Linked DNA regions of Homo sapiens. The protein of the gene in region 1 purifies or fractionates together with the protein of each later gene. This does not show direct contact. Each region holds a gene or a part of one and is shown in the gene's direction. Other genes may lie near its edges.

Evidence for each region. The genes of interacting proteins can lie anywhere in the genome.
Region 2: the proteins of CD226 (region 1) and ARL10 purify together in Homo sapiens (co-immunoprecipitation; 2 studies listed by BioGRID and IntAct, with this or other methods). This does not show direct contact.

What each region holds. Positions count from the first base shown.
Region 1 is NC_000018.10:69,888,862-69,895,882, reverse strand, and holds part of CD226 (CD226 antigen isoform a precursor), read left to right. Parts: coding exon 1-182; intron 183-7,021.
Region 2 is NC_000005.10:176,361,213-176,368,507, forward strand, and holds the start of ARL10 (ADP-ribosylation factor-like protein 10), read left to right. Parts: upstream 1-4,274; 5' UTR 4,275-4,351; coding exon 4,352-4,534; intron 4,535-5,167; coding exon 5,168-5,369; intron 5,370-6,733; exon of another isoform or gene 6,734-6,819; intron 6,820-7,295.

The sequences.
Region 1 (7,021 bases):
CCATGGCAGAAATTTCACCTCCAAGTTCCCAAGACAAATAGTGAGCAACTGCAGCCACGGAAGGTGGAGCGTCATCGTCATCCCCGATGTCACAGTCTCAGACTCGGGGCTTTACCGCTGCTACTTGCAGGCCAGCGCAGGAGAAAACGAAACCTTCGTGATGAGATTGACTGTAGCCGAGGGTGAGTGAGCACCAGACATCTTCTGGTATCAAACATGGAAAAAGCCAGCCCCGTGGGCTGGTCTCTGTTTTTATTTATGGTAAACATGTTCATTTAATGCGCATATTCAGCATTTTTTTAAATGGCTGAATTTAGGTGAGTTGGCCATTATTCTAGTATTGAGGGTTTCTTTATCTTGTGAATCCATCAATCAGATACAGCAATAAAAATCTTTCCAATTTTCTTATCTGCCACCATCCTGAAGCTTAAAAAAGAAATTCGTAAAGGGCTGAAAAACATATGGTATTACCAGCCTTCAGGTTTCAGCTGTAGAACTCCTATCTTCCCAATTACATGAATATTTTTGATGGTGGTGATAAGGTGTTAGAATCCCCACATACCCCAGCAATACAAGACAGTGCTAGGTTGATATGGCTGAAGCAGGGCTGCGTTGAGTGCATTTCAGCAGGTGTTTGAGAATGCGGTTGCCAGTTTGCCAGACAGGAGCCTTTTTTTCTCTCAGTCTTTTTCAGATGTGGATGCAGAAACAGACTGATGTTGCATCTTAATATTACTAGGAAAATAGGTTTGACCTTGCAGATCCCCAAAAGGGACACAGGGATCCTCAGGGACCCCCAAACATACTATAAGAACCACTGACTTAGATCTTTGGTGACCATTACTGAGTATAATCTTTGTGCTGGTGAAATTGGCCTTTGGGGCTTCCACCTCCTCCAAGGCCTCCTCCAAGGCACCACACTATTTGTATATTAGGCATTTGTCTTTTTTTTGTCACAATGAAGCCTTTCATTGTGTTTCAGGACCTGCAAAACCTAGATCCACTTTGCATGAGTATGAGAAAAAGTAATTTCTTTCACTTACAGAAGTGCTAATATAGAGAGGCCCATATAGAGGTCTGTGTAGAGGCCTGCATTACAGTTGAGAGAGAGGAAGGCCATCCCAGGCTCTCCCAGCTCTGCCTCTGGGCCAGCTTCCTCACTGTCGGGACACGGAAGAGAAAATAATTTATTTTTACCTTTCACTTTGTTCTCCCTTCTTCCTTTCCTTCCTCCCTCCCCTCCCCTCCTCCCCTCCCCTTCCTTCCCTCCCCTACCTTCCCCCTCCCCTGCCCTCCCCCTCCCCATCTCCCTCCCCTTCCCTCCCCCCCCTCCCCTCCCCTCCCCTCCTGTCTCTCCCCTCCCCTCCCCTCCTTTCTCTCCCCTCCCCTCCCTTCCCTTCTCTCCCCTCCCTTCCCTTCCCTCCCCTCCCCTCCCCTCCCTTCCCTCCCTCCCTCCCTCCCTTCCTTCCTTCCTTCCTTCCTTCCTTCCTTCCTTCCTTCCTTCCTCCCACTTGAGCAGGCCCCTTCCAAAGCACTGCACTATTTGTGTATTAGGCATTTGTCTCTTTTGTCACAATGAATCCTTAAATTGTGTAAGATTCCAGCCCCCACAAAACCTAGATCCACTTTGTATGATTGTGAGAAAAAGTGATTTTTTTTTTATTTACAGAAGTACAAATATAGAGGTCCATATAGAGTTCTGTGTAGAGGCCTGTATTACAGTTCCCTCCCTCCCTTTCTCCCTCACTCTCTTCCATCTTTCCTTCCCTTCCTTCCTTCTTTCACTCTGTTCCATTCCCTTTTCTTTTCTTCCTTCCCTTCTCCCTTCCACATGCTTTCAGCCAGCTAATTTACCTTTGACTTATGTTAGACTTGTAGAGCCAACGCTTGCTAGGCTTTGGCTGTCCCTTTATAGACTTTGCTCATATTGCAAACTGATATTTCTTCCTGTGTTGAAAATGAAGAAGAAAAGGTCTTGTATAAACAGAAGCTTCCACTATAGCTCTGTGTATAATAAGGAGAGCATTTTCAGGGAATAACATCTTTTCATACACAATCACCTTGGACCACATCAAGCCTCCCTTGTTCCTCTAGGAACTGTGGTGAGACATACATTGGACTTAGAATTTAATGAAAATGATGAGTGGTTGGTGAAATATTTGGGGGAGGAAAAATTAGCAGAGACTCCTCATTTTAAATGTTGACTCTGTTCCTTCAGACACAGACAAAAAGAACTTCTTACCTAAAAATCCCTTGCATTATGGAAGTATTTTTTGAAACTGGTCAGGAAAAAGAAACAGTGAAAACAGATTAGAGACCAAGGCAAGAAAAAAATGTTCTATTCAGAAAAGTGTCATAAAGAATCATTTTCAAACACGTATAAGATTTTGCCCATTATATGCTGAAAAAGTAATTGTAAACATCTTAAATTATAGAGAAAATGAAGGTAACAGATTTTTAGGAGATATGGTTATTTAACTCTTATTAATTAATAAAAATGTCATTCATCTGTCCAAAGATGACTAAGTTTCTTGCACAAAACTATTTCTTTGTATGTAAATTATAAACAGCGTCAAACTCTGCCAATGAAATGAAGATGACTAAATGTAATGGTCAGTAGTGTTAGTGTCCATGTGTTTTGAACAGTTGCAAATGGCTTTTTGACATTCAGTTGACAGATTGAAAGAATGTCAACTGGACCTTGTATCCATTAGTAAAAAGTTATCATTGACAGAAGATGACAGCCATTGACTGTATGTTTCAGTTTAATTCCTTTTTTCAATTTTTATAAGTGAAAGATTGAATATAAAACTTAGATGCAAAGCAAAACAGATCATTTGTGTTTTCTCTGGTGCAATTTGATTATTTCACGTCTTGAGGCTCTTTGGTCAAAAATCAATGTGGAGATTAAAGCAGAGAGACAGATATAAGATGTGGGACAGATTTAATTTATTTCAACTGCCAAGGGAAAGGTGATTGTGGCAGATTTTATAAATTGCTGTACATACTTTTGTTAGTTCTCAATGACTTCTTTTATAGCACATAGTATTGGATCTAAAAGAGAGATTTTTAGGACTCTCATATTCATACACACACACACACATGCACACACAGACACGGACACACACACAGAGAGGGGCTCTTCCCCTGACTCCTACCTGCCTGCATTCATCTTCAGACAAGTACCAGGTCACTCAACAGAGGACCCCTGCCAACCAGCAGGTCAAGTATCCAGGCCTTGATTGGTTTTGAACAGAGGAGAAAATGGCAGAAGCAAGAACTGAACTCACATTTACCACTGACTTTCTTTGCTGAGTGAAAAGAAATACATTTCTCTTGTCCTTTGCACTTATGTCCTGAAATGTAGAATGAAATAATTCCAGACTGACTTTTCTGAATTTGAAACTTGCCTGGACCGAAGGGCAAGGAAAGTGGGGACGGGGGGAGCACAGGGGAATGTCTGTTTATTGACAGTGACTACAGTTATTTTTGGCCCTTAACATCCTCTGGATTTTCATTTGTCATAAGAGAAGTATTTTAGGTGCCACTAAAATAATTTGTCAAATATTTTAATATTAGCTAAATGATTTGCAGACTACTATTGTTTAAACTGACCTTATTGGCTATAAAAAGAATGAAGGCAAAAGAAATAAAATCAGCTCTTGCAGAAAGTTTCTGGAGGAGGCTAATATTGAAAAAACTTCTGTTTGCTATTGATAAGTATAATTACTCATGTCCTTGTATAATCGTCTTCCACCAGTGAGACCACTCAGGCGGGACCATCAAGGTTCAAATGAGGCATTGATGATTAGAGCTGAGGAATGACATGAAACAGGTTATGAAGAGTAACCCCAAATATGCAGGAGGAATGGGGAGATGGTGCATGGGAGACTGTAGTCAAATGACTAGGTTGGTATGGAGAGTCTAAGTTATGTATTAATATGGGACGAGGTAGGTTAAATTAAGTGATGACAGTGAAAACCTGCATCTCATATAATTGTCAAGCAAAGCTACCATTAGTTCTTGAGCAAAGATGGCAAAACAATAATCATGAAAGAATAAGTTGCTATATGATTTTCAGTGTGCAAGTCTTTAACATTTTTGGTTAAGTTTATTCTTAAATACTTTATTCCTTTTATTGTTATTGGGGATGGGATTTTGTTTTAATTCCTTTTTTGGATAGTTTGCTGTTTGTGTACAGAAACCTGACTGATATTTTATATGTTGATTTTTGTATCCTGCCTCTTAACTGAATTCATTTATTAGTTTGAACAGGTTTTTTTGTGGCACTTTTAGGGTTTTATACATATATGATTATGTCATCGGCAAACAGAGATAATATTACTTCTTCCTTTCTGATTTGAATGCCTTTTGTTTTCTTTTTCTTGTTTAATGGCTCTGATTAAGACTTCTTGTACTATGTTAAGCAGAGGTGTTGAAAGTGGCCACCTTTGTCTTTTTCCTGATCTTAGAGCAAAAGTTCTCAGTCTTACATGACTTGGTATGATGTTAGCTGTGGGCTTTTCATAGATGGCCTTTATTGTGTTGGGGTAAATTCTTTCTGTACCTAATTTGTTGAGAGTTTTTTTTTTTTAATCACACAAGGATGTTGAATTTGTCAAATGCTTTTTATGCTCTATTTTGATGATCATGTGGCCTTTTTATATCACTTTGTTAATGTGGTGTATTACATTGATTGATTTACATATGTTGAACCATCTTTGCATGCCAGGGATAAATCAGAATTGATTAGAATATACAATCCATTTAATGTGATGGTGAATTTAGTTTGCTAGTATTTTGTTGAGGATTTTTTCATCTGTGTTCATTAGGGATGTCAGCCTGTAGGTTTTTTTTTTTTTTTTGTGGTGTCTTTGTCTGGTTTTGGTATCAGGGTGATGCTGGTCTCATAAACTGAGTTTAGAACTGCTTCTTTTTTTAAAAAAGAATTAAATCATTTATTGATTACACATGATAATGTAGAACTGTTTCTAAACTCAGGATTGGCATTAATTCCTAGAATGTTTGATAGAATTCATCTGTGAAGCCACCTGGTCCTGGGATCAGTGATGGGTCATAGGCCACTGATCCACCTACCTTTGTAGGCACAAAGGTGTCCTACACAGGGTAGAGAGATACTGTCAGCATGATTTGAATCTCAGTTTGTGCTTTCCACTGCCTCAAAACACTCACACTTTCCTACTTTCTCCTTTTTCTAACTGACTAAGTTTCCATCACATTTGCTTTCTTTCCTATAGAGTTTCAGCCGTCTCAATGTCTATGTTTTTTTCCACATCAGACCAAACTGCTTCCCCATCATTGAAATATTAAGCATCTTGGATTTCTCAAACTTTTATAGTCTGAAAATTGCTACCCTCGAGTGACTTATTAACTTCCATCTATTTGTATTTATTTATTTATTTATTTTTTGAGACCGGGTTATGAGACTGGCTAATTTTTGTATTTTTGGTAGAGATGGGGTTTCAAGGATGGTCCTGGGCTCAAGCAATCCCCTGCCTCAGCCTCCTAAAGTGCTGGGATTGGTAGTGTGAACCACCACACCTGGCCTGCATCTATTTGTAATGTTCCAAACTCTGGTTATCAGAAATTAATTGAGATTAAGGATTATGGCATCTGCTTAAAGTTGTCAAAGCATCTTTTCAGAATATGCCCAGTAAGTGTTCTTGACCGATTATGTTAATGTTTCTATTCATTCTAGTAGGGGCTGTGTCCATTTTAATTTTAAGTTTTCTACCTCTTTTCTTTCCAGATTTTTTTTCTTCAACGTTTAACCTTTGAGGTTTACTGATTGTTGATCAAAGAAACTGAACTTTCAAAAGATCAACTACAGTGATTGGAGAAAAAACTTTCATGAACTCTTGTTTACATATATAACTTTCAGATAGGGCTATTTACTTTTTTAACTTTCATTTTCTTATTTTGAATTTTTAATATAAGTGGCACATAATTGCTGGTCATCTGAATAGAAGGATGGGATTAGTAAATTAAGATTACAAAACTATTCACTAGGAAATCATAGTGCCACAGCTAAGAGAATCTTCCCAGATATTTCCTCTGGGACGATGTGAGGTATAGGATTGACAAGGAGGAAGGACAGGGGAATAGAGTGCTGTAAGTTATAAATACATCCGTATATAGATGATACATCTTATTTATACAGATTATAAATCTTGCCTGTAGATGGCTTGTGGGAGGTTACTGACTTTGAGACTCTGTGCTCCTGAGTTGGATTATAAAATTATTGAAGAAAGGAAATAAATTTTGCTTATTTCCTTGGCCTTTTATTTCTGTCAAAAACCAACCAGTTTGCTCCCAGTCCATTTGGATTCCAGAAGAGTTTCAGGTTGTAGACAAGACAGTTTTTTTTTTTTTTTAAGGATTCCATTAATCCAGAACCTTCTGTCCCACTCCTATGAATTTAGAATAGATATAAAGCTTGTGGACATGAGGATTGTCTGAACTGGTGTGCACTGGGCTGACAGATATGTCCCTTTCCATGACATTGTGTGGTGAACCTCAGCCTTTTATTATCTTTACCTACATGGAAAGTAAAATGTCCATGACAGTTAATTTATATGATGGAGCAACACGACCAGAATCCCAGAGCACCGTGTCACTGCTCACAAGCTAAAATAACCTCTACTCAAACAGATCAACCACAATTTTCAGCCCAATTTAGTTTTCTCGGTGAAACTGGGTATCCAGATGAAACATAGTTTCCAGCATCACAAGTGAGTTGATTACTCAATCATGGCTATTATGTGGTTGAATCTTTACTTTACTGTTGCCTCTGCCCAGATCATTTTTTTTAATGATCTATTGCATTCAAAAAAATGCAACCGGTCAGTTAATTTGTTTTGTAAGCCCTAGTATTGATCTATTCATTTTTTGAACACACAAAAACCTAGAATGTTTGCCTGCAGTCATTTTTTATACATACTATTATTGTATAGATAAGTAAGATATTGAATAATAGTGATAAGTTATTGTCAGAGGGAAT
Region 2 (7,295 bases), on another chromosome or scaffold:
CGCCAGGATACGAAAGGCCGGCTGCTTCACCCACCCCTCCAGGCTAAGATTAGGGCCAGGACCCTAGCCGAAGGCGGGGTGTGGGGAGATGAGGTTGAGGACAAGCCGCGGGGGCTCGGGCTGGGCTGGTCCCACGAAGCGGAGGGGAAGCCCGTACGGGAGCTGCAGGGCATTCCCGGAGAGAAGCCCCATTACGGAGACCCCAGAGAGCGGAGCCAGGGAGGCAAGAGGCGACCCAGCCGAGCTCGAAGCCGGGATGAAGGGTTAAGAGGTGCGGGGAGAGGGGAGTGGCTTGGAGGGGCCCCGAGATCGGGCCTCGCCGGAAGCGCCCCTCCTGATCGCCAGAGAACGCAGCCCCAAGGGAGGGCCCAGGCCCGCCATCTGTTCACCTGTGATCCTGCTGCCGCGGGACTGCCTGCGGCCCGGAGTCCGGCACTAAAAAGGTTCCGAGGGCCCACGTCTCCCGAGAGGCTGTGGCGCAGTCTGGACCCAAGCCATTGTGAGAGCGGCGGCGATTTCGAAGGTCCCCAAGACCCACTAGGTAGCAGTACCACCCAGCGGGCAGGCAGCACTGCAGATAAAGCCTCCGGAGACCGCGGGATCTCGCGCGAGACTTGGCCCAGCGGAGCACAGGGCATGCTGGGAGTTGTTGTCCACGATCGCGAGACCCGCCCCCTCCCCATGCCCTTCGCCGCCCAGCGAGTTGTGGAGCCGCAGCTCCGAGTGTGGAATCCGCCAGCCCCGAGAGGAAACGCCACACTTCACCACCACTTCCTCAGCGCGTGTGCTGTGCCTGGGTCCGTGACAAGCTAAGGGAAGACGGAGGTAGCATAGTAAAATGACACCCACAAACCCAAGCCCTCAAGGCTCAAAAAGGGCTGCCAAGTGCGAGCACTTGTCATCCTGTTTTTCCCACTTCACGGAGGTGAAGCTGAGACTGGGAGAGATGAGAAGTCACTTCGATTAGCAAGCGGTGCAGTGAGCACGGACTGTCTCCCAAAACAGCGGGGTTAGGCAGGGTTCGTACTAGTAGCTGAACCAAAAAAGGGAACCGACCTCACCTGCCTCCCCTAGGGAAGGCGATCCTAATATCATTTCTCTTTTACATAAAGGAGAGTGAGGCTTAGAGGCGCCAGCTGAGGTGTCAGTCACATCCTGAAGGAAGACTTCTCTTATCCCTGAAGGGTTCACAAAGAAGGCGAAGCAACGAAGTTACAGCAGAATTTGCAAAAATCTATCCACGTTTCTACCCCAGTCCAAAGCTCGCCATCAAAACTCATCTCAGGAGAGCTATGATTGGTGGTGCAGGGTGAATGTCACATTTAGATTTCAGCATTTGAGGCTTCCAGCCGTACTGGCAGAACTGAGAGGCCTTGCTCATGCGACTTGAAACTTAAGCGCTGTTTCCAGACCAGGGTGCTTGAGTGCACTAAGAATTAAAGTCTTTGATGAATTCTATAATTAGCTTATCAACAGCACAATTACATTGCAGTATAATTGTGTGTATATGTGTGCGTGCGTGTGTGTGTTAAAGGTGTTCCTTTGTTAATTTGGAGCTTTTAAAATATGCCATATTTTTTAACCTCTGTGGAAGCAAAGCTGGCACCTTGCTCTTTATCCACCACAGGAAGGGATGTATATCACCTCTCAGTCAGAAAAGGAAGAAATAGCACTTTGCACCCTTATGTAGATCATAAGGTGGGATCATCTCATTTATTTCTTAGCCACAAATACATGAAAACTTAAGACTTTCCTGGAAGTTACTATTTGATTAAAACAACTTTTTCTGGCTGGGCACGGTGGTTCAGGCCTGTAATCCCAACACTTTCAGAGGCTGAGGCGTTCGAGACCATCCTGGCCAACACGGCGAAACCCCGTCTCTACTAAAATACAAAAATCAGCCAGGCGTAGTGACAGGTGCCTGTAATCCCAGCTATTCTGGAGACTGAGGCAGGAGAATCTCTTGAACCTGGGAGACGGAGGCTGCAGTCTGCCTTGTCCTAGGTACCCCCAGTGACTGCCAAGGCTTCCACGTGTGTAGCACGAGGAGGAAGAACAGGAGAAACGACCTGAGTACAGCAGTCGGGTTCTTTTGGCTCTCCAGAGGGGTGACGCCATGTACGGCTGGCTGTAGGGTACATGGGTTGAGAGACCGCCTGTGGCTCTCAGGGCCCAGCAGGGCTACCTCTTTCCCTTTATATTGTCTCAACTCTTCACCTCCTTTTAGTTCGCGATTCCTCTGTACCCCTGGCTCTGGGTCCCAGCCCCTATTCCTTCTGATTTGTCCCCCTTTCCCTTTGACTACATATATATGCTCCTCTCCTCCCAGATAGTGATGTTTTAGCTACATCTTATTTCTTCCGGCATTGATTCTTTTGAAAAATTTATTTCTGGCTGGGTGTGGTGGCTCATGCCTGTAATCCCAGCACTTTGGGAGGCCTGAGATCACACTACTGCACTCCAGCCTGGGCTACAGAGTGAGACTCCATCTCAAAAAAAAAAAAAACTTTATCCCTGATATTTGTGGTACCAATGTCTGAAGCTGTCATGGTCTTGGTGCATAGCACCTATGTGAGAGCACCTATTTCTTTTCCACAAATAATAGACTGTAAACATTTTTTTTTTTTTTTTTTTTGAGACAAGGTCTCGCTCTGTTGCCCAGGCTGGAATGCAGTGGCGCAATCTCGGCTCACAGTAACCTCTGCCTCCCAGTTTCAAGCGATTCTCCTGCCTCAGTCTACCAAGTAGCTGGGACTACAGGCGCCTGCCACCACGCCCGGCTCCACGCCCGGCTAATTTTTTGGATTTTCAGTAGAGATGGGGTTTCACCGTGTTAGCCAGGATGGTCTCGATCTCCTGACCTCGTGATCCGGCCGGCTGCCTCGGCCTCCCAAAGTGCTGGGATCACAGGCGTGAGCCACCGCACCAGCCAAACTTTTAATCTTAGCAATTTTGTGGGTTTTCCCCTCTAAGTGGGTGTATTTTTGAGGAGGAGCTAATTTTTTTTTCTTTTTTTTTTTTTTTGAGACGGATTCTTGCTCTGTCACCCAGGCTGGAGGGCAGTGGCGCAATCTCAGCACACTGCAACCTCCTCCTCCTGGGTTCAAGCGATTCTCCTGCCTTAGCCTCCTGAGTAGGTGGGATTACAGGCACGTGCCACCACGCCCGGCTAATTTTTGTAGAGATGGGGTTTCACCATGTTAGGCAGGCTATTCTCGAACTCCTGACCTCAGGTGATCCGCCTGCCTCGGCCTCCCAAAGTGCTGGGATTACAGGCATGAGCCACCACACCCGGCCAGAAATAAATTTTTCAAAAGAATCAATGCCGGAAGAAATAAGATGTAGCTAAAACATCACTATCTGGGAGGAGAGGAGCATATATATGTAGTCAAAGGGAAAGGGGGACAAATCAGAAGGAATAGGGGCTGGGACCCAGAGCCAGGGGTACAGAGGAATCGCAAACTAAAAGGAGGTGAAGAGTTGAGACAATATAAAGGGGAAGAGGTAGCCCTGCTGGGCCCTGAGAGCCACAGGCGGTCTCTCGACCCATGTACCCTACAGCCAGCCGTACATGGCGTCACCCCTCTGGAGAGCCAAAAGAACCCGACTGCTGTACTCAGGTCGTTTCTCCTGTTCTTCCTCCTCGTGCTACACACGTGGAAGCCTTGGCAGTCACTGGGGGTACCTAGGACAAGGCAGTCAGCCCTAAACATTCTGAAGTCCTGACACTGCTTAATTCAGCCTGACCAGGACCCCAGCAAAACCCCTGTGGTCCGGGAGGCAGCGAAAGAAGGCTAGAGGTGGCGGGGAGCCACGGACCTGGGTTCTATTCCTGCCTCTGCCACCCCACTGCCGTGTGATATCGGGCGTCTTGCTTCAATTTCCTCCCGAGGTCTTGAGGGATGACCGGGAGACAGATCGCTTGGGTTTGAACGCAGGCTACACCAAAGCACTACGATGCGGCGTTGGGCGGGTTACTTAACTCCTGGGCCTCGGTTTTCCCTTCTGCGTGGTATCATTGTAAGGGGTAACGGAGAAAAGCCGTGAGCTAACCCCTGGTGGATGCTAGCAAGCACCGCCGTCTCCCGTCCTCCCCAGGCACAGCCTCTCCTTCCTCCACCCTGCACCTGGCAGGGGGACCGGAGGTCCCCGCGCGCCGGCCAGCGCCCCACCACCCACGCCGCCGGGTCCCGGGCGGCCTGCCGTGACAGCGGCAGTGCATTGTGGGGCTTGTAGTGCGGGACTGGGTCTGGGTGGGTGGGCGCGGCCGCAGCAGTCGCAGCGGGGCCATCTTCGGCGGGCGAGTGGGCTCGGCCTGTGCAACCCGCACCTGCGTCCCTCGCCCGGCCCGATGGCGCCGCGGCCGCTGGGCCCCTTGGTGCTGGCGCTGGGCGGCGCCGCGGCGGTGCTGGGCTCGGTGCTCTTCATCCTCTGGAAGACCTACTTCGGCCGCGGCCGAGAGCGGCGCTGGGACCGGGGAGAGGCCTGGTGGGGCGCGGAGGCTGCCCGCCTCCCCGAGTGGGACGAGTGGGACGTGAGTGCCGGGCCGAGGCCTGCGGAAGGGCGGGCAGGCTGGGCTGCGACTCCGCGCATGTGGCCAAGGGGTGTGACCACGGAACGGCCCTGCTGGTGCCGGGAGCTTGGGGGGTCGAGGGCTTGGCAGCCGCAGCGCACAGGCCCCGCGCGGGTGGGCGGTCAGAGCCCGGGAACCGAGGAACGGGTGGGTGTGCTTGGGTGCGTGCGGCGCCTTGGCGCCACGCCGTCGCTCCACGCCATGAGGCTCGGGTGTTCCAGCGGGGGCCGGAGTTTGGAGGGCGCGGCTCGGGAGCATCCCGGGGCCCAGCCGGGTCGGCTCGCGCCCCTCCGGCGCCTGCGCAGTGCACCCCGCCCGGGGGTGGGGATGTCGGGAGAAACCCCATCCCCTCCCGCCTGCGGTCGGGACTCCGAGACCGGTGGAGGAAGCGGGGCGCGCGAGCGTTTAAGGAATTCGCCAAGGGTTTGGAATTCAGGACTGCAAAGGCGGCGTTCGTCCCACTCATCCAGACCATGCCTGCCTGTCCCAGGACGGGTGGAAGGCGGGCCTGGGCCCTCTGGTGCCTTCGGTCTTCCCTCGGGAAAGGTCCTTCGGGAGGCCGCCAGCCGCAACCTTACCTCCGCTTCCCCGCAGCCCGAGGACGAGGAGGACGAGGAGCCGGCGCTGGAGGAGCTGGAACAGCGCGAGGTGCTGGTGCTGGGGCTGGATGGCGCAGGCAAGAGCACGTTCCTGCGCGTGTTGTCGGGGAAGCCACCGCTGGAAGGCCACATCCCCACCTGGGGCTTCAACTCCGTGCGTCTGCCCACCAAGGACTTTGAGGTGGACCTGCTAGAAAGTGAGCGGACACCCTACCCCATCTCCCCGTCTCCTCTACTGGACCAGTCCTGGATTCTCTGCAGGGAAGGGGGCTTCCAAAATGCATGTCTAAGCAGCACATTCCCCTCTACGAATCCTTCCCACCGCTCTCCGGGGCACAGGATTCAGCCCACGCTCTGTGCTCTGACATTTAGGGCCCTTCGTGATCGGGCCTCTCCAGCTGCACCGCCTGCCCCATCACCCCTACCAAAGTCGATAGGCCTAACACAGAGATACTAACAGCTAAGGGTTCATATGCCAAGCACTTGACGGGCATTGCTTAAGAAAACTCCCCTAAACAATTACATAAAACTAGAATCGGTCACTACCCTCGTTATCTCCAGAGGAAAATGAGTTCCAGCAGTAGTATCATGAATCCAAGGTCACCCACCTTTCTAGTCTTTTTTTTTTTTTTTTTTTTTTTGAGATGGAGTCTCACTGTGACACCCAGGCTGGAGTGCAATGGCGCTGTCTCGGCTCACTGCAACCTCCTCCTCCCGGGTTCAAGCGATTCTCCAGCTTCAGCCTCCTGAGCAGCTGGGATTACAGGCGCCCGCCACCACGCCCGGCTAATTTTTGTATTTTTAGTAGAGACGGGGGTTTCACCACATTGGTCAGGCTAGTCTTGAACTCCTGACCTCAAGTGATCTGCCCGCTTCGACCTCCCAAAGTGCTGGGATTACAGGCGTAAGCCATCGCACCCCACCATTCTAGTTTTTTTTTTTTGGAGACAGGGTCTCTGTCGCCCAGGCTGGAATGGCAGTGGGCAGTGGCACACCCTCCTCCACTATTGCCTGTCTGGCCCAAACTAGTGTCATCTTTCCTCTCAGCACCACAGCCTCCTCTTTGGTCTTCCTGCTTCCCCTTCTGTCCCTAGTGTCAGCTAGAGAAAACCCATGTCAGGTAATGTCACTCTTGCTTAAAGCCCTTGGGGGGCTCCCCACCCCCTCACTGTGGTCTTTGGCCCCATGTGGCCCGCCCCAGCCAGCCTCACAGCCATCTCTTTCTCCTTCTTGCAGTGCCTCAGCACCCCAGCCTTCTTTCTGTTTCCCAGACACTTCCAGCATGCTCTCCCCTCTGTCTGGAATGCTTTCCTCTGCCTCTTCCCATGGCTGGCTCCTTCTCATCATCCCACTCAGCTCACATGCCACTTCCTTGATGAGACCTACCCAGACCACCCAATCCAGGGCCAACCCCTGTTCCACCTCAGCCACTTTCCCTTTTTTCTGTTTTATTTCTTTCCTTTTTGAAATGTGTTGATGTCATTGCCATGTCCTTCCCAGTTAGGGAGGGAGCTCCTTGGTGCAGGGCCCCTGCTTGCCTTGCTCACCTCTGTATCTGCAGCACCCAGATCAGTGCTTGGCACCTAGCAAGCACTCAGTAAATATTTGTTGAGTGCCTGCTATGTGCCAGGCATTGTGCTGAGGGCTTTGTGGGGATTCAGAGGTAAGTGCCTCTGACTCTCACAGCTTAGAATCCTCAAGTGTCAGAAACATAGCCAGAAACACTAGGGTGCGGGGTGACCAATGGGACTGTGCAGAGGAGCAGAGAGGAAAAGAAAGGTGATCCAGGCTGGGGGACTGTGTTGGCAACCATGTGTTCATAGGATGAAATATGACATTTCCAAGGGAAAAGAAGGGGATGGGGGAAACTGAATGGAGAATGGCTGTGTATAGGCAGGGCAGGGGGTCCTGAGTTTTCTAGACAATAGGACTCCTGGCTCCTGTCACAGCCATCACTGACAGTTTTGAACCTGTAGGAGAAAGCTAGGAATTAGCAAGAGGCAAAGCCAGACAACCCAGGGGAGAGAACTGAAGACTTCCATTTACTGAGCACCTGTGTGTCAGTCCCGTGAAAGGTACATCGCACGTGGTACCTGTGGGTTTTACTGCAACAACCCGTTAGG